Linked DNA regions of Homo sapiens. The protein of the gene in region 1 binds, or shares a complex with, the protein of each later gene. Each region holds a gene or a part of one and is shown on either strand. Other genes may lie near its edges. A codon is read from its position in the direction of its gene.

Evidence for each region.
Region 2: the proteins of CDK5R1 (region 1) and CDK5 are in contact, whole or in part, in a crystal structure (PDB 3O0G), measured with the Homo sapiens proteins. Residues at the interface, in NP_003876.1 of Homo sapiens: Trp190 (codon at 6,503), Gln193 (codon at 6,512), Thr197 (codon at 6,524), Pro198 (codon at 6,527), Ala199 (codon at 6,530), Phe203 (codon at 6,542), Tyr231 (codon at 6,626), Leu232 (codon at 6,629), Ser235 (codon at 6,638), Tyr236 (codon at 6,641), Met237 (codon at 6,644), Gly238 (codon at 6,647), Asn239 (codon at 6,650), Glu240 (codon at 6,653), Ile241 (codon at 6,656), Ser242 (codon at 6,659), Tyr243 (codon at 6,662), Pro244 (codon at 6,665), Leu245 (codon at 6,668), Lys254 (codon at 6,695), Glu255 (codon at 6,698), Trp258 (codon at 6,707), Asp259 (codon at 6,710), Cys261 (codon at 6,716), Leu262 (codon at 6,719), Ile265 (codon at 6,728), Asn266 (codon at 6,731), Ser269 (codon at 6,740), Ser270 (codon at 6,743), Met272 (codon at 6,749); in NP_004926.1 of Homo sapiens: Leu37 (codon at 4,982), Asp38 (codon at 4,979), Glu42 (codon at 4,967), Gly43 (codon at 4,868), Pro45 (codon at 4,862), Ser46 (codon at 4,859), Ser47 (codon at 4,856), Leu49 (codon at 4,850), Arg50 (codon at 4,847), Ile52 (codon at 4,841), Cys53 (codon at 4,838), Leu54 (codon at 4,835), Lys56 (codon at 4,829), Glu57 (codon at 4,826), Val69 (codon at 4,679), His71 (codon at 4,673), Leu76 (codon at 4,658), Arg120 (codon at 3,696), Asn121 (codon at 3,693), Val122 (codon at 3,690), Leu147 (codon at 3,469), Arg149 (codon at 3,463), Ala150 (codon at 3,460), Phe151 (codon at 3,457), Gly152 (codon at 3,454), Ile153 (codon at 3,451), Pro154 (codon at 3,448), Arg156 (codon at 3,442), Cys157 (codon at 3,439), Tyr158 (codon at 3,436).

Annotation. Positions count from the first base shown.
Region 1 is NC_000017.11:32,481,686-32,489,992, forward strand, and holds the start of CDK5R1 (cyclin-dependent kinase 5 activator 1), read left to right. Parts: upstream 1-5,307; 5' UTR 5,308-5,477; intron 5,478-5,790; 5' UTR 5,791-5,935; coding exon 5,936-6,859; 3' UTR 6,860-8,307. UniProt on the Homo sapiens protein: p35 is a neuron specific activator of CDK5. The complex p35/CDK5 is required for neurite outgrowth and cortical lamination. Involved in dendritic spine morphogenesis by mediating the EFNA1-EPHA4 signaling. Activator of TPKII.
Region 2 is NC_000007.14:151,052,108-151,062,392, forward strand, and holds CDK5 (cyclin-dependent kinase 5), read right to left. Parts: upstream 5,791-10,285; 5' UTR 5,742-5,790; coding exon 5,705-5,741; intron 5,054-5,704; coding exon 4,965-5,053; intron 4,869-4,964; coding exon 4,801-4,868; intron 4,690-4,800; coding exon 4,629-4,689; intron 4,530-4,628; coding exon 4,473-4,529; intron 3,742-4,472; coding exon 3,646-3,741; intron 3,500-3,645; coding exon 3,425-3,499; intron 3,267-3,424; coding exon 3,170-3,266; intron 2,990-3,169; coding exon 2,920-2,989; intron 2,359-2,919; coding exon 2,298-2,358; intron 2,186-2,297; coding exon 2,105-2,185; intron 1,989-2,104; coding exon 1,902-1,988; 3' UTR 1,708-1,901; downstream 1-1,707. Other genes in the region: ASIC3 (acid-sensing ion channel 3), read left to right, coding at 59-130, 309-367, 447-579; SLC4A2 (anion exchange protein 2), read left to right, coding at 9,881-9,931. UniProt on the Homo sapiens protein: Proline-directed serine/threonine-protein kinase essential for neuronal cell cycle arrest and differentiation and may be involved in apoptotic cell death in neuronal diseases by triggering abortive cell cycle re-entry. Interacts with D1 and D3-type G1 cyclins.

The DNA.
Region 1 (8,307 bases):
TGTCTGTGAAAGCCATGAGCTTCTCTCCCTCTCCCACTCCTCCTCTCCTACTTTCAGATGGATTTATTCCTTTTTTAAACAATGAACATCGGAAATGAGACTGTGGGGTGTGGTTTCTCTCTCTCTTTTTTTTTTAATTTTCTTTGTTGGGTTTTTGAGCAACCTCATGTCCCCTTCCCAGGGAGCTTTTTAATTTACCTCTTAGAACTCAAGTGGATGGGAAGTAGAGCACTATGTGTCAGTATGCTTTGTTTTCTGACACGATTACACAGCGAGGCTTTAATGCCATTTGGGTAGGTGAGCTTCTGCACTTCTGTTGTGCTGAACTGTATTTTCTTCTCTCATCTCCTCTTTGTCTTTTTCTCTTTTCCTCTCCTTCCTGCCTTCTTCTGCTGGCCTCCTTTTCTCTTTCTTTACCTTCCTTGGATTATCCTTCCAGGTTTTCATAATAAATTTATATTTTGTAAAAGGATTTTGTTGTACCAGGTTTTGCATCCTCACTGAATCTGACTGGCTTTTATTTTCCTCTCCAAAATCAGGTTTTTGTTCTCAACATCTTTCCCCATCATGTCTAGTCACTGTTTTGGTTTTGGCACCATCAGTATCAAATGTACAAACGGTTCTTGCTAACCAACACCAGGTATATCTGATGTTCAGATGAGTTCCAATAAAAATAATTTTTTTTTTTTTCAAAAGGTGTCTTTTTCTTGAGTGCTGGAGGGCTTCCAAGCAAGTCCAGACAGCTCTGTGTGGCCCCACACTAGTCTAGCTCTCATCTGGCCAAAGCTGTTATCTCATTTGTGTAATGGGAGTCCTTAAGGTAAATTTGGGGTCCAAACTTGGAGGGCTTTGGGGGCAAGAAAGTTGGTGTGTGAGTTCTGAGGTTGGAAATGAGTTCAGGTGTCTTCTTCCAGGGCAGCATGGTCCAGTGAGCACATGTAAGTTTGGGCAGTAGATCCTCTGAGCCTACTTTCTCTTCTACTCAGTGAGGATGCTGCTTCCTTGGCAGGTGATTGTGATGTGAAGCTTAGTAAGTCATAGACGTGCAGGTGTCTGGAGAGTCCTGACATGCAGTTGTGGTTTCGTTTCCTTTTGGAATCTTCAAAGGCAGCGATTTTCATATTGCCTCACACCCTGGCGGGGGCGGGGGGCTCTGGGACCACTGGGGGACCTGCTAAATCCTCTTCAGTCTGAGCAGTTCAGCCATTGTCAGTTTTAGTATTGTGTCTCTGTATTTCACTTGCAGAAAGAGCTTTGCTTCTATAAAGGACTTTAAAAAGTACTCCAAAGAGATCTAGTTTTGGAGTAGAGGGGAGATGTTTTCTCAAACTTAGGGCAGTCCTGAGATGCTCAGGCAGTAGCCCTTTTCTCAGTTCCCTTTGCGGGTCTTGGTCAGATGATGCCCTCTAGACCCGTGCTGTCCAATATGTAGCCGCTAGCCATGTGCAGCTGTCAGGCCCTTGCAACGTGGCTGGTTCGAGCTGTGATACACTGCAAGTGTAAACACAAACCAGACTTCGAAGGCTTAGTATGATAACAAAAGAAAAGGAGTGTAAAATATGTCAATAACTTTTTTATATATGTGTTGAAATATTTTGGGTATTGGGTTAAATAAAATATATTATTAAAATTCACCTGTTTCCCTTTTACTTGTGTAATGTGGCTGCTAGAAAATATAAAGTTACCTATGTGGCTTCTATCTGGACAGCGCAGCTCTAGACCTCCAGGACCAGCAGTTGTGTCACTGCCTCCTCTCCCAGGCCTCTCATGACCTGAGTCCAGGCACAGCTGGGAAGGTCAGCTGGCCGGTGGGCTGGCCTGGGCCCGGCTCCCTCACCTCCCTTCTGGGCTCCAGCCTTCATGGTGCCAGGACTTTCTTGTGTGTTAATGAGACTCTACTGGAGTTGGGAGCAGAGGCTCTGGTCCCCTGCTGTGTGCTAGTTATGTAATCTGTGCTGCTCAGAAGGGCCACTAGATGCTGCTCTGTGATCCCTGAAAGAACAAAGCCGACTTCCTCAGGAGTAAGGGCTCAGGCCTGCTCTATTTGGAACCCTTCTTGGAAGCTGTAGCTGGCCCCCGCCTTGACCTCCCTCCCTCGGGATGCTATGGGAAGTGGGGCATGCAGGAAGAGTGGACTCTCCGGCAGTCCACGGGCAGCCCAGCCCAGCAGGGAAGCTAACAAGCAGGCTGGCCCTTCAGGCAGCTAGAGATAGGCAATAGGCTAAGTAGGCTGATTGATGGGGGTGGGATTTGGAAATCTTCCCTGCAGTTCTATGATGAAGGCAGCTAGGAAGAAAACAGCTCTGCCTCATTCAACTGGGTCTGCCTTCTGGGTCCTTGGTTCTGCCATTTCTGGCAGTTGACTGTCCTTTCTTCCTTGCTTCCAGTTGGAGCAGTGATAGGAACTGGGGGTGGGGAGGTGGTGGTGGGTTGAATGAAAAGAGGAGCTCTGTGGTGTCTGAAAACCAGCATAACAGGCATGGCCTGGGTGATAGGAGCTCCTGGAGACCCCTCCCTTAGTCGCAGCAGCAAGTGGGCTGCCAGTGCCATCCCATTCCTGCTGTGCTGCAACTGTGACTTTGCCTTGGGCAAGTGTGAGGAGGCTGGTGTTCTGCCGAGAGCTCTGTTTGAAGGTGCTAGGGAAAGGCTGGCTGGACAAAGGTGAGAAGACACAGGGTATGGCCTGGCTTGAAAAGGCCCATGCAGAGGCATGCTGCTGCAGAGTGGGAAGCAGGGTAGTGGGGTGAGCTTGGTCCGCCTCCCCGTGAATTGGAATAGCTAGAATTGAGATTGAGAGTTAAAGGTAACAGAGTGGGCCCAGGTTTTTCTAGGGGGTGGATTTTTCTTTTTTTAGCCGAAGTGTCACTCTGTCACCCAGGCTGGAATGCAGTGGCACAATCTCAGCTCACTGCAACCTCTGCCTCCCGGGTTCAAGCTATTCTCCTGCCTCAGCCTCCCGAGTAGCTGGGATTATAGGCACCCGCCACCACGCCCAGCTAATTTTTTTAGTAGAGACGGGTTTCACCATGTTGGCCAGGCTGGTCTCAAACTCCTGACCTCAGGTGATCCGCCCGCCTTGGCCTCTGAAACTGCTGGACACAGTGTGGCCATCACGCCTGGCCGGGGTGGATTATAGGCTTCAAAATTTGGACATATTTTGGGAAGTGGAAAACATTTAACCTTGGCTCAACACTAGAATCTGAAGGGGGGCACAGAGCCAACTCAGGAGCTAGAGGCTCCAAGTAAGGGCTGAGGAAAAGAGGCTGGGGTTCGGCTTTCCTTTGAGAAGGAAAAGGGACACTTGGTCAGGGTCTCGAAGCAAATCGTTTCTTCTGGCTTTTTTTTTTTTTTTTTTTTTTTTTTTGAGATGGAGTTTCGCTCTTGTTGCCCAGGCTGGAGTGCAATGGTGCAATCTCGGCCCACTGCAACCTCTGTCTCCCAGGTTCAAGCGATTCTCCTGCCTCAGCCTCCTGAGTAGCTGAGATTACAGGTGCCTGCCACCACGCCTGGCTAATTTTTTTTGTATTTTTAGTAGAGACGGGGTTTCACCATGTTGGCTAGGCTGGTCTCGAACTCCTGACCTCAGGTGATCCACCCGCCTCGGCCTCCCAAAATACTGGGATTACAAGCATGAGCCACTGCGTCGGCCTCTTCTGGCTTCTTACTGTTACATGCAGGAGGGTTGAGGACAGCTCCATTTGAAGAGCAGGTAGGCTTGTACACTGAGGAACATTCACAGGGAGGGGCGCACTGAGCTGGGGGCCTGCCTTCCTCTTCTGAGTTCCCATAACAGCTGTTGTGGATGTTCTGAAAGGCTGTGGACAAAGTAGCCCTCTGGGTACAGAGCAATGCATTTTCCACTGTATGCCTTGCCCCCCAAGGTTCCTAAAGCCTGGAATTCCTATTGACAGAAATCTGAGTGGCACATAAACAAAACCCAGCACTTTCTGCCTTGATTGCACCATTTTGAATGATGCCAGATTCCCTTTCTGTTCCCCCTAGGACAGTTGACAGGGCTGGTGAAAGCCTAGTCGGCTGGAGTGGTCAGGTAACTGGGTGGCATCCTCTCCTCTGGAGAGCCACTCCCTCATCTCTAGGTCCAGAGATAATCTGGATTAAGACAGGGCTTAAGTTTCCTGTTTCCCAGGTTTGTGGTCAGTTTTGACTCGATCTCCAGAAACAAGGTAAAATAGTAAATGAACAACAGCCTTTGTGAAGGATCTGGATTCACATCTGACAGGAACAGCTTTCAGAAACAGAATTTTACTCAATTTCGCTAGCATCAAGTTCTCAAATTATACATACTTAGAATTGAAAACGTTTAAGAGGGTCAGAAAGCTGGCCGGAGGGGCAGTTGCTTCAGCTTTAATATGACAAATAAGAGGGCGAGTGGGAACTTAGAGGTCATATTTGTGACGGGCTCAGGCTTGGCTACGGGCCACGCTTCTCTGGCTTGGATCTCTGAGGCCCACTTCGGCCGCGGTCATCTACCCATGATGAGGGAACGGAGGCCCCGGAGGGGTGGCCAGAACCGATTGGACTGTCCACTCGAGGTGCGCGTGGCACTCGGGAGGCCTCAGTAAAGGCGTCGCCTCTCCCCGCCCAGGGCCTTCTTCCCCGCGCTCCCTGGCTGCTTTCCACAGGGACGGGGATGTCAGGTGGAAGGAGGGAGCTCCGGACCCTGGCCTCGGCGGAGGGCTCCTCACCAGGCCAGGGCGGCAGCCTCAGAGAGGGCGGGCCGCGCGCTGCCAGGGCAGGGACTCGGCCGAGAGTGCCCCCGCGGCCGGCAGCTGCGGGCGCCGCGGCGGGAACAAAGGCAGCACGTGTCTGGGCGGGACGCGGGCGGGGTCGGCCCTCGGCTCCGCCCTGCTCGGCGCCCGCCCCGCGTCGGCAGAGTTGGGTTGCGCGGGCGCCGAGGACTCTCCGGCGGCCGGGCTGCTGTTGGGCGGCGGCGCGGAGCGGGCGGCGAGCTGTGCGGGAGGGGCGGCCCCGAGGGGCGGGGCGGGCCGACGCCGCGTGTCCCGCCGCAGCCGCGGAGTCCGGCTCCTAGATGGGGCCCGGCGCGTAGAGGTGCCTCCCGCTCGTTGCCGCGTCCTACCCGCACCGTGCGCGGCTCGAGCTGAGGACACCAACGGCCGCGACTCCCCGGCGAGACCAGGCCGGAGCGTGGACGGCGCGCGCGCCCCGCGAGGGAGGGCGCTGAGGCGCGCGCCGGAAGCGGGAGCGGGAGCGGGAGCGCGGCGGCGGCGGCGAAGGTGCGGGCGGCCGAGCGGGGGGCGGGGCTGCGGTGCCTGCAGAACCTTGGACAGAAGCTCCCTAGCTGCCGCCGCCGCCGCCGCCGCCGTCGCCGCCGCCGAGCGCGAGCCCAGCCGATCCCCGCCGAGCGCCCCCGAGCGCCGCCGAGCGCCGGGACCGCGGCGGCGGGGCCGCGGCGCGCATTGCGGAGGGCGCGGAGCGCAGGAGCTGCCGCCTGCCGGGTAAGCCTGCGCTGGGCGGCCGTCCTTGGCCCTGGGGAGCGGAGACCGGGGTCGCGCCCGTGCGGGGTGTCCAGGCGGGGGTCCTCGGCCGCCTCCGTCGGCGACCGGGCCCCTCCCGGCTGCGCCTGGGGACCGCAGCGGCGGCGGCGGGCGGGGGTGCTGCAGTGGAGGCGGCGAGGCTGCGTCGCGGGGGCGCGGGTAGGGCCCGGGACTGGGGCGGCGGGGTGCGCCGAGGCGCGGGGCGGAGGGGCGCAGGGGCGCAGGGGCGCGGCGCGGAGCCCAGCCTGGCGCTAAGAACCATCTTGTTTTCCAGGCAGATCCAAGGGGGCAGCACGCTTCCCGGGAGCGCCCCCGCCTCCTCTCCGGGGCCGCCGCAGGCTCGGTGAGCGGTTTTATCCCTCCGGCCGGCAGGCTGGGCGCGCAGGGGCGCGAGCCCCCGCCCGGCGCGCAGCAGCACCATGGGCACGGTGCTGTCCCTGTCTCCCAGCTACCGGAAGGCCACGCTGTTTGAGGATGGCGCGGCCACCGTGGGCCACTATACGGCCGTACAGAACAGCAAGAACGCCAAGGACAAGAACCTGAAGCGCCACTCCATCATCTCCGTGCTGCCTTGGAAGAGAATCGTGGCCGTGTCGGCCAAGAAGAAGAACTCCAAGAAGGTGCAGCCCAACAGCAGCTACCAGAACAACATCACGCACCTCAACAATGAGAACCTGAAGAAGTCGCTGTCGTGCGCCAACCTGTCCACATTCGCCCAGCCCCCACCGGCCCAGCCGCCTGCACCCCCGGCCAGCCAGCTCTCGGGTTCCCAGACCGGGGGCTCCTCCTCAGTCAAGAAAGCCCCTCACCCTGCCGTCACCTCCGCAGGGACGCCCAAACGGGTCATCGTCCAGGCGTCCACCAGTGAGCTGCTTCGCTGCCTGGGTGAGTTTCTCTGCCGCCGGTGCTACCGCCTGAAGCACCTGTCCCCCACGGACCCCGTGCTCTGGCTGCGCAGCGTGGACCGCTCGCTGCTTCTGCAGGGCTGGCAGGACCAGGGCTTCATCACGCCGGCCAACGTGGTCTTCCTCTACATGCTCTGCAGGGATGTTATCTCCTCCGAGGTGGGCTCGGATCACGAGCTCCAGGCCGTCCTGCTGACATGCCTGTACCTCTCCTACTCCTACATGGGCAACGAGATCTCCTACCCGCTCAAGCCCTTCCTGGTGGAGAGCTGCAAGGAGGCCTTTTGGGACCGTTGCCTCTCTGTCATCAACCTCATGAGCTCAAAGATGCTGCAGATAAATGCCGACCCACACTACTTCACACAGGTCTTCTCCGACCTGAAGAACGAGAGCGGCCAGGAGGACAAGAAGCGGCTCCTCCTAGGCCTGGATCGGTGAGCACTGTAGCCTGCGTCATGGCTCAAGGATTCAATGCATTTTTAAGAATTTATTATTAAATCAGTTTTGTGTACAGTATGTGTCTAGCAAAGCCACCAAGGGCCTCACCTTTCCCACAGTCTCTCCCTGGGGTTTTTTTCATCCCTGCCAAGAACTCTGGGCACTTTTGAACTCACGAGCCTTGCGCAAAACCCAGAAGATGTATTCAGAGCCACCCAGGCCACTGACCTCCCACTTTGGGGAACTCAAAGGACTGACCTGCCCCTGCCGCCTGTGCCCTTGCTGGGTCCAGGGTAGGCAAGGCTGCCGGCTGCACCCTGTATGGAGCTAGAGAGGGGCCTCTGGCTGCCTGGCCCAGGGAGGAATTGGGGTTTCTGGTTGGAGGCCCTTTTCTGGCTCCTGTGTGGAGTTATTCACTCTCCCAGAGGCTCCTGGAGCCAGCCACCCTAACTGAGCTGCCAGTGGGGTCGTGAGGCAAGATCCCCGCCACCCGGGGACATCTTCAATCTAGGCGAGGCGAAGCTGAGCGGGTCTAGTGGAAAGATTGTGTCTGGTCGTTTGACCACACACCGCCCTGATTTGCTGTTTTCTTTTTTTAGGGAGAAGGGCTTTTCTTTAGTGGAGAAATGGAACTCGCCCCCCTACCCCCTTGTCTGCTGCTCCCAGCCACGTTGGTGGTATTGGCCGATGAGCTGGTTTGACTCATTAATTTCTCTCAATTTGGGTCCCAGCTAAAGAGGTGGGGTGAAGCTGGGGACAGCTTTCCTGGGTGAGTTTTTCTTTTGAATAATGTAGTGCAGTCACCCTGTGGCAAATGCCAGGACAGCTGCAGGTGCCCATTAGCAACGCCTGCCTTCTGGGCAAGGTGAGGGATGCCATACCTTGAGACCAAGCCGGTGCCCACCTAAGGGCTAAGGCCTCTTGCTGGTGCACATGACATTTGTCCTGCAGAGCTGGGGGGAAGGCGATGTGGTGACCCCACCCCCACCCGTTAATTTAAAGCTGTTTCTAAACAGTTGAGTTTCTTCTAAAGAGGAAGCCTTGCCCAGCAAGGACCAGTGAGACAGCCGGATCTTGGAGACAATTACAAGACGGGGAGTGAGACTCCTGATTGCTCTGGAAGCCTGCTGATTTCTACAACTGATCATTTGCAGCTGCTGGTTTTGGTTTCCACCTTACCCTACTGGCTGTAAAAACACAAATGTGTACTTTATTGATTTTCTTTCTAATTCTCCCGCATTGGTGGCTTGGGACTTGGGAGAGGGAGCAAGCCTTCCTCCATGGCCCATCACTCGGCTGTGGAGAACAAAGACCAATGTGAAGACACTACAGAGGATTCTGTCTTCCAGGCCCAGTCCACTGGGGAGTGCTGGAATGGGGACCTGGGGTGGGGAGGCAGAGGGTCACTTTACATAGGATTAAGTTCGAGGTGGCTACCGATTTCAGCA
Region 2 (10,285 bases), on another chromosome or scaffold:
GCCCCTAGGATGAGGGGGAAGGTGTGCACTGGCCACCTCCCATCCTGCTTGCCTCCAGGTGTTCCGAGACAAGGTCCTGGGATATTTCTGGAACCGACAGCACTCCCAAAGGCACTCCAGCACCAATCTGGTAACAGCCCCTCTTCTGGAGCCCTTGCCTGCTCCAAGGGTGCTAGGGCCCACCCCTGAAGCCTAGACCACCATCCCGCCCCAGCTGAGGAGAAACAGGCAGGAGGGTGTGCAGTGACCTCGACTGGTCCCTGGGAGGAGGACCACTCCCCACCTCTGACCCTCTCGTCCTCACACAGCTTCAGGAAGGGCTGGGCAGCCATCGAACCCAAGTTCCCCACCTCAGCCTGGGCCCCAGGTAACACATAATGGCCCCCTAAAATCAAGGGAGGGCAGGGGCAGGCTCAGGACAGTGGGTGTGCCCGTTCCCACCCCAGCACTCTGCTCTGTTCCGAAGACCTCCCACCCCTCCCTGTGCCGTCACCAAGACTCTCTCCGCCTCCCACCGCACCTGCTACCTTGTCACACAGCTCTAGACCTGCTGTCTGTGTCCTCGGAGCCCCGCCCTGACATCCTGGACATGCCTAGCCTGCACGTAGCTTTTCCGTCTTCACCCCAAATAAAGTCCTAATGCATCAGCCTCAGCTGTTTCTCTTACAGGGCAGAGACTAGCCAAGCCAAGGTCAGCCCAACTTAGGCATTGGAAGTCTTCTGCCAGCCATCATCCAGCTGGACGTGGCTTCTGAAATGTGGAGCTGGGCCCTTGAACCCCCATGAATCTCTAGGGGAGAATGGTAGCAAGAGGTTATCAGTCATTTGCACCTCAGTGTGAGTGAGTTTAGCCGACTGACATCTTAGAGAGAAGGGAGGACAGGTATCCTCCAAGCCCGGGTTAGGTGTGAGGTGCAGAATCACAGTCAGCAATAAAGGTATAACTGGAAGAAAACTCTGCCCAGAGCTCAGCAAGAAGAGGCAGGGAGAAGACGGGGTGACTCCACTTTCAAGAACACCTGTGTCCTGCCTTACATCCTGACTCCTTTCCCACATTTGGGACCAAGTGCGGCACACAGCCTGTCTCCATACAAACAAGTTCTGCCTCCTCAGCCTCCCCACAAGAGCTAAAGGCCCCAGGCTTGAGACGGTGGGGGTGGGGGTGGGGGTAGGCGGAGCCCTCCCTTCCTCTTCCTGCCAGTAAGGACACACCAGGCCCCAGCCACAGGCCCAACTTCCCTCTCTTTCACTGGACCCCAAACATTGGGAAACTGACAAATAGGGAGTGGGAGGGGGTGTTCCTGATGGAACCATATCTTTGGGGCTCTCCTGTGCCAGCCTGCAGGCCTTGGTATGGGGGGGATGATGAGGGAAAGGACAAGAGGATCCACCTGAGATATGGAGAACCACAAGGAGAGGCCCAGCCCTTTCCTCTCCACCCTGGTGGGGAGCCCATCCTTGCTCCCCTCACTCTGAGGGACCACATCAGGCCCTCCTGGGCAGAGGAAGGGAGGGTGGGAGGAAGGGGTGTGCAGCGACAGTGCTGCCCTGCCCCAGGGGTGAGGGGTGAGGGTCATGGCCTCTTAAAGTAGAAGAGCAAGGTGCTGTCTTTGAGCCAGAAGCAGGATTGCGGCCGGCAGTAACAGACCAGAGACACCTCCAGCCCATGGGCCCTGTAGAGCCACTTGACCACCACATCAACCAGACTGTGGGAAAGGAGCCAATTTATGAAATTAAATAAAGTCCACAAAGGGAGTGAGAAATTCGGGCTCAGGCACCCCACCCCGGCTGGGCCCAGCACTGCTGGAGCACAGCGCACCAGGCACCCCCACTGTCTCACCCCTCTCAAGAGGGGGCTTAAATAGGCCAGGCCCCAGCCTGGAGGCCGGGGGTCCCGGGGCCTAGGGCGGACAGAAGTCGGAGAAGTAGGGGTGCTGCAGGGCCTCTTCTGCTGAGATACGCTGGACAGGGTTACACTTCAGAAGGTTCTGGAGATGGGGGAAAGGAGGTGGCAGGTTCAGGACAGGTCACTGCCCAGAGCCCTGCCTTCCTGTAGTCCCACTGGGCAAGTGTCCTGACCCACCCTCTACCCCTGGTCACCTACCTGCAGCAGATCCCTCCCTGTGGCATTGAGTTTGGGCACGACGTTCACCAGGGATGTTGTGGCCGGGTACATCGGATAGGGCTGTGGAGAGGCAGGGAGGGTCAGACTAGAGGTAGGGGGAGGGGGATGGAGGCGCTAGGAATGTGAAACGAGTGACCCTGATGAACCATGACCCCCACATTCCCCATCACACCTTATAGTCTGGCAGCTTGGTCATAGAGGGCCACTGCTCCTCGGTGGGCGTCCCCAGCAGTGTGTCCACGGAGTCAAGGATCACTTGGGAAAGGGCCACAGCTGCATCTTCAGGGGCAGGGTGAGGGCCTCTTCCCCTCCTGGGGAGGGATTCCTCATACCCACCGCCCACTTCTCACCCTCCCTTTACCCTCCGGCTTGAGCTTGACAGAAGCAGCCCCAGGCAGGTCACTCGCATATCCAGCCACGTTTCCCATGACAATCACCTAACCCACATGCTGCTGTCCTAGTCCTAATGAAACAGTCCTTGCCCTGCTCCCACAAAATGTGTCCTGTTCTCTTTGGCTCCTTCATCCTGGCATCCATCTCTCACCTGGAGGGACACCCTCTCGGCTTCACCCCTCAGGGCACGCTGCCTGTCTCCAAGCCACACCTTCTCCAGTGTGCATTTGCACTGTGACAATCAGGGTGTCCAGCACCCCTGCTCTCTCCCCTTGCCCTCAGGAGAAGCCCTACAGACCCCATCACCCTACCCCACACCATCACTGCCCTCACCCATTGTGCTCAAAACTCCATGGACTCTCCCCTCCCAGAGGGCTCAAGGCAGAGGAAAGCAAGGATATCGGAAGATCCTCTTCAACTGGTCATCGACATCATTGCCGGGAAAAAGAGGCCGCCCAGCATTGGCCAGCTCTGGGGGATAGACAGGGGGCTAAGATGTGACATGTGAAGGACCCCTCACTCTGAGGTACCCCCTGACCTTCCAGCTCCAGTCCCAGGGCCTCCCTCCCTTCCCCCAGAGGGGACCCTCCAGACCCTATTTGTCAACTCAAATGGGAAAGAAGGTGCCTCTGCAACACCCCAGCACATCACCTGCAAAGATGCAGCCGGCTGACCACATGTCGATGGACGTGGAGTACAGCTTGGCCCCAAAGAGGACATCCGGTGGGCGGTACCACAGTGTGACCACCTGGAGGAGACCCCCCCCGAAAGGGACCTCCCACTTAGAGGACTGGGGAGGAGGTTTGAGGAGGAGGCTCAGAGAGGAGAGGAAAATAATGTTTTGGGTCCTGGGGTTGGAGCTGAGGGACTCCCTCCCCCAATCCCATATCCCATCTTCTAGCTCACCTCAGCTGAGTAACAGCGGACGGGAATCCCAAAGGCTCGAGCCAGGCCAAAATCAGCCAATTTCAGCTCCCCATTCTGAAGGGAATGGGAAGGGGACATGGAGAAGGGCCTTTAAAAAGCCTTGGGACAGCACCAACTCCATCCTCCCAGTCCTCTTCCCTCTGTGCTCCCCGTGCCCTGGCCCCAGCCTCTCCATTCCCCACCTTCTTCCCAAGAAGTACCCTGTTTATTAGCAGGTTCTGGGGCTTCAGGTCCCTGTGTAGCACATTGCGGCTATGACAGAATCCCAGCCCTTTTAGTAGCTGGAAGAGGAATGACTGGGAGGAGAGAGGGAGAAGGGAGTCAGACGCCCTGAACATGCAACTGTGCCCAGCAACGGGTCGGCTCCTCTCCTCACCCTGTGCTTCGCTCCACCCCACCCACCTTTCAGCACCTGGTTCAGAGTGACACCATTCATTCGCCATCCAGGACCTGCTTTATACTGTGCTAGGCATTAGAGGGACCAAAGTAAAGAAGCTGGCTCTGGTCCCCACCTTCCTGGACCATACAGCCTAATGGGCCTTGGCAGGTGGATCCTAGATCCGGCCTAGATCCCAGCCCATGCTGATCTTCCCTTCCTGGCCGCATCTGAGTATGCACGCCGTGAACATCAACATAAATATCGTGCTGTAGTATCATTCAGGACTGGCTCCCCTGGAACCTGGACCAAGGCATTTGGTCTTGGGCCTAGAAAAGCACCTGGCACACAGTGAAGCATTCAGTAAGTATGTGTTGAATGAATGAGTGTATCTCCTTGAACCTCATTTTCTCATCTCTCGAGTGTAAATAATATCACTGACATCAGAATGACACTGTGCGGGTCAAAGATGACCACGTGAAAATGCTCACTAAGACTGGAGACCCCTGGAGGACAGAAACAGGGTTTTCTCATTCTCTAACACCCTAGAGTGTCCCTGTTCAGGGCCCAAACTTAGAGCCCAAGGGGTGCTTACACCGAATGCAGACTCCGACCCCAGCCTGAGGGGTCCCCCAACACCACTCTCCTCACCTTTACAATCTCAGGATCGAGGTCACCATTGCAACTGTCAAAATACTTCTTCAGGTCCTGAAAAGGGATATGAGTGGGGGAATGGGACAGAGTTTAACCTCAATCTGGGCCCCTATACCTTCCCAAGGCTACTGTCCTCCAAACCCCGCCTTTCACCTGGTCACAGAATTCAAAAACCAAAGTCAGCTTCTTGTCGCTGTGCAGGACGTCATGAAGCCTAGGGCAAAAGAAGGGCTCAGCCAGGCAGGTCCGCCTGACAGACGTCCAGTGTCAGCCCCCGCCTCCCCCAAGCGGCCACACCGGCAAGGAGCACCCGCCTCCCGCACACCTGACGATGTTCTTGTGCTTCAGCTCCTTGAGTAGGCAGATCTCCCGGAGGGCGGAACTCGGCACACCCTGCATATGTGAGGGGGCCGGTGGGCAGCAGTCAGATCCCACCCAGCCCAGGCCCTCAAACCCCTCCCCAGGCCGTATCCCACTCCCCAGTCCTACCTCATCATCGTCATCCAGCCTCACCCGTTTCAGAGCCACGATCTCATGAGTCTCCCGGTTTTTGGCCTTGAACACAGTTCCGTAGGTGCCTAGGGGAAGGAGGTCAGGGGTCAGGGTGAGGATGCGGCACTCTTCCCTAAGCCAGGAAATGCCTCCTGAGAGAGGTGAAGGCAGCGTCTCAGTATGCAAGGGAAGGGATTCAGGGTGAAGGTAGGTTGGTGAGCTTTGTGAGTGAGGATGTGGCAGGTGGGGAGGGAGGAGAAGGTGCCCACCGAGGCTCCAGGGGCTCGGCAGGAGGGGCGAGTGCGGTTGCCAGGGCAAGGATGTCTAAAATGAAGGCGGTGCTCCGGAAGGGTCTGGAAATAGTGAGGAGGGGTCTGGGAGAGGACTGAGGGGCTGCAGAAATATTGAGGTTGGAGGTCTGCAGCAAGAAACGAGGCTGGGGGTCGGGGTGAGGTTGTCCAAGTGCTGCTGAGGCTGGGGTGAGAAATTTCAGGAAGTGTCGCGGTTGGGAGGTCGGGTCTACTGGGAACGCTAAGGTTGGAGTGAGAGCCCTGCGGGAAATGCTAACACGGGGAAGACTGGTGTCTGCACGGAGTGCTGAGCTAGGGGGCCAGGGCTGCAGCCGCTGCTGAGATCGGAGCCTGTAGGCATTGCTGACGGTAAGGGAGCCAGGGCTTCAAGGAATGCCGAAGGATCTGCAGAGGAGCTCTTGCAGGAACATCTCGAGATTCCATTACCTTCCCCAATCTTTTCCAGTTTCTCGTATTTCTGCATCGCGGCGGCCGCGGGGACCCCTGCGGGCCCTCGGTTTTAAGACTCTGGCCCCGGCGTTGCAGAGGAGGCGGCACCTGAGCCTCCAGCCCCGCCCCGTCTGCCCGCGCAGGGCCTTCTGGGGCTTGTAGTCCTAAAACGACTAGGTCTCCCCGCAATGCCCGAGACCGAGGACAAGAAGACTACAACCCCCAGCCGTCTGCGCTCACGCTCTCTGCAGCACTCGACTCCAGGGCTCCGTTTCTACCGCGGAGGCAAACCTTGGACTTCAAGTCCCAGGAAGCAACGCGTGTCCGTTTTCCGGGCGCCCCGCCGCGGCGCCGTGGTTCCCAGTGTGCCCCGCTGTTGTTATTCCTTTTATGTGCTCCCAGCCCTCTTGAAAAGGGCCGCTCCGGGACTACGCGTTCCAGAATGCAGCGGAAATGGGGGCGGAGCGCTCTCGGTTAGGGGTTTGGGGTTTGGCGGCCTAGATCCCGGGCACTGGCGGCCCAGCGCTGACCTGGTTGGTGGCATTGTGTTCCCAACGGCCTCTTGACGACCTCAGCACGGGTTTCCACCTCTCCCCAAGCCACCTAGTGACCCCAGAATTGACTGGGGAATGCCTGTGAGCGATGATGACCTCACAGGGAACAGCTGACCGCAGGGCTGGGAGAACAGCTGTGCCCCTTCGAGGCTGGATTTTAGTGGAGGGACACACGCCAAAGACCCCCTCTCTGCTGAGCCCCGTTTGTTGTCTCGGAGCCCACCCGACTCTAGCCGCTGAACTCTGACATGCTGAGGAAAACTGGGTGGAGCCCTGGGGGTCCCCCTCAGACCCCAGTCTCCGGAACAGGGCCCACTGGAGTCAGCCAGGGTGTGGCAGGCAGGTTGGTTAACCCCCTCCACAGACAAGACCACAGACCGATGCTCAACTTGCAGCAGCCTCTGCCTCACCCCTTAAAGGAGCTGATTATAGATTCCCTTACGCTGCCTCTCTAATTGTCTCATGATTGCATTCTTGAGGGCTATGGACCGAGGGAAAAGGATCCCAAACAGCACTCCTCAGCACCGGAACCAGAGTTGCTGCTAAACACGTGTTAATTAACTCGTTTCTATCTGAATGCTTTTGCATACACAAGGGAAAAGAAGCAAAAAGTGTATTCCTTATCTGGAAGACTTTGTGATTTCGTTGGGCAAAAAAGAACTACACACAAAGGTCTTGAATGATAAGTGATGGCTCTGCCTAGGGTTCGGTTCAGTGTGGAGGTTCCATTCAAGAGGAAGGAGGCCAGCACAGCGAATCTCTGTCCCTCTCTGGAAGTGGAGAGCCTCTAACAAGTTACCCTCTCCCAGATCAGCTCAGGGTACCGGGCGGCCAGCCTCCAGCCCCTGTCACCCTTCTCACCCACTCGCCACCCGTCCCTCAGGGGCTTTCTTGGAGGCACGGGGGTTATTGAGGGGGGCAAGAGAATCTCAACCCCGATACGTTTATGTTTCGACTTCCCCGAATTTCCTTGTGCCTGCGTTTTGCTGCCTGGGATCCCTAGCGTGAGAAGGGCTCCTTTACACTCAGAGGTGCCGTAATGGAGCCAAGGGACGGCATCCTCGGGGCTCCCGAGCCCCGAGTGGAGAAGCTTGGGGCAGAGGGACGGCGGGGGCGGCCCCTGGTGCCGGGCTGTGCCTGGAAGCGCGCCCCCGCCCCGGCCCCCGCTCCCGCCTCCCCACCCGCGAAGGCGGGACCGCGCACGGTGCGCCGGGGGGCGCGCACGCAGGGGGCTGGCCTGCCCGCGGCGCGGGGGAAAGTTGAGTTGGGAGAAGTTGGGAGCGGCGGGGGCGCGCCCCGGGGTGGGCACGGGGCAGTCGTCGGGAGCGCGCGAGTGCGCCGGAGGACGGGGAGAGACCCCGAGACCCCCGGGGCACGAAGTCCAGAGCGAGCGGGTAGGCGGAGAGGTGGTGGCGGGGGACGGCCAGGGCCGCAGAGGGAGGAAGGGAGGGGGAAGGAGAGGGGGGAACTCGGGACTCGAGCGGGGAGGGAGTGGAAGTGGAGGAAAGGGCGGAGACTGGGGCGCGGGGAACCGCGGTCTTGGGGAGAAGGATGGGGAGGCGGATGGAGTGCTGGTCGGAAGCGGGCATTCCGGGGTCCCCTTCTCAGAGTTCCCTAAAGCCAGGGTGCCGCGCCCCCTGCCACCAGGAGGGGGTAGTCTCCCCGAGGCGCCGCCGGCCCTCCCACTCCCCGGCTGGCTCCAGACCACCCCTCCCCTCCGGCCCCCCCGCATAGTCCTTCAGTCCCGTCCGGGGCGCCCAGACTGGGGGTTGCCCGGGGCCCCCATCCCCAATCTCCGGGTTGAGAGGCGAAGCCAGGAAAGGCGGGTGGCGGGTAAGGTCGGACAAGGGGTCAGACAGAAGAGGGAGCAGCTGGGTGGGAATGGGAAAGATGAGCCCGGAGAGTTGGACCTGACTCCCGGGGTCGGTTTGTCCAGGCGGGAAGTTCTGTGCTGGGTGTGAGAGGCGGCACTGCCTGAAACCCAGGGTCTACTTTATCCCCCTTCGTTTCCCCCGCCAGCCCCACATGGAAGAGCTGCGGAATTTACGAGTTCACTTGGGGGGTGGTTAATGCCCAAGTGGGGGTCCGAGGTGCTAATCCCTTGGTCAAGGGGAGAGATACTAATCCTCTGGGCCGGTCGGGGCTGGTCCCGGGAATGTGCCCCTACCCGGATTATCGGCACCGATGCTCTGGACAGAAGCTGCTTTGTGTTCTGGGACAGCAGGGGAGGGGGTGCAGAGGAGTGTGGAGGAGCGCGACGAGGGCACAGCCTGAGGTGGGAGTGGGCGCCTGCAGGTGCTCTGGGCGGACTCTCCCCACACCCTTCCCAGACTGGGTGCACTCACGCTCACCCACACCACCCGCCCTGGCTGAAGGCCTGCTGAGGGGGAGGGGAAGAGCGTGGTTAGCCAAGTTGGAGTGCTTGCCAAGAATGTGTTGCCAGGCTCCCCATCCTGGGTGACCCCCCCAGACCTATATTGTTTGACGCTACACTGACTTGTCTTACTCCTAAGTCAGGCACCCCCAGTCCCCAGCAACACACTGGGAGCATGGGTTGTTGGGTACCGTCACTTTTTGCCAGTCTTGGGTGCCCCCTGTGCTGACCCGCTAGGAATGCGCCCCCTATTTGCAGGGATTGGGCTCCCTCCTGCAGCTCCTTCTCTGCCCCCACCACACAGTGTCCTCCCCAGACTCCCTACAGTCACAGTCAGGAGGGTGGCAGCACTGCCACTCAGATTTTCCTGGCTCCAGGCTCTAGAGGGGCGGGATCCAGACTGCCCCTCAGAGGCAGAACCTCAAGGTTGCGGTGCCCACCCCCTCCCAGCCCATCACATGCCCCTCCCCCATTATAAAGCTCTGCCCAGCCCATGCCCACCTTCTGTGCCTTCCTCTCTCTCAGTGAGTGAGTGGAGTTGAGCTCCTGCCCTCCACCCAGCCAGCCTGCTTCCCTCCTGCCGGTCCCCAAGGACCTGGGGGAGGGAAGCCTCCTGCCGGCCTGTACTGGGGAGGGGGCACCCCCTCCCTGCAGGGGCATCTTGGGCTCTCTCCAGAGTTCTTCCATTCGTCTGCTTCCTGTCTCGGCAGCCCGGCCCCGGCTCCACGGGGTGTCTCACCCTCCCCACCACACCCTCTCTGGTCTCAGGCCCACCTCTGGTGGGTGCCCTGACCCTGCGAGGCTCCGTTGTCTGCCTGGGCCTTCACTCCCCTCTTTCCCCAGCTCATTATCACTCCCTCCCTCATCTTTGTTGCTTTCTCTCCGGGCCTGGGCCTTGACTCCTTTCTCCCTCATTTTTCTTGCGGCCTTTCCCACCTCCTCTCTCCTCCTCCCTCTACTCAGCCTCTCGGCCCTTTTCGGCCCCCCTCGCCTCAGTCCTCTCCTGTCTCCTTGTTCTTCTCTTTTCTTCCTATAAATAACTCTCCTCTGTGCTGTGGCTGCCGCTAAGGGCCACTCTGAGGCCCTTCATACTCCAGGAGGATCCCCAGCAGCGCAGCCTGCGCGTGGTGGCTCCTGCCCTCCCAGGGCTCTCGATGGTGATCAGGCCTCTCCCCCATCCAGGTTATGCCTCCGCCTCGTTGCCCTGAAAGCCGCAGCGACAGCGAAAAGGGCTAAGATTCGGCCATGAGCAGCGCCCCTCGGCGCCCCGCCAAGGGCGCAGATTCTTTCTGTACGGTGAGTGTGGCCCCCAGGTCGCCAGCCCAACCTTCCCTCCCTGGGCAGCCTTGGGTGCTCCGGCCAAGGGTCCTCGCCAACCAGGGGTGTGAGCGTGTGTGAGTGTGGAGACTGGGAGGATGCTGCCATCCCTACCCTGACTTTGCATGATGGTCGTAGGGGGGGATGGGTAGTGGGGGTATCAGACGTCTTCCAGTCCTGGGGAGGGAGTTGAGGCTGTTACCTGAAGACCTAGGTAGCTTAGCCTCAGCGGTTGAGGAACTTTGAGAACCCTGGGTCTCTCACCCAGCAACCCGTCTCAGACCCGGCTGGCCTTAGAGGCGCAGGTCAAGTCTGCACGCGGGCCAGGGTTCT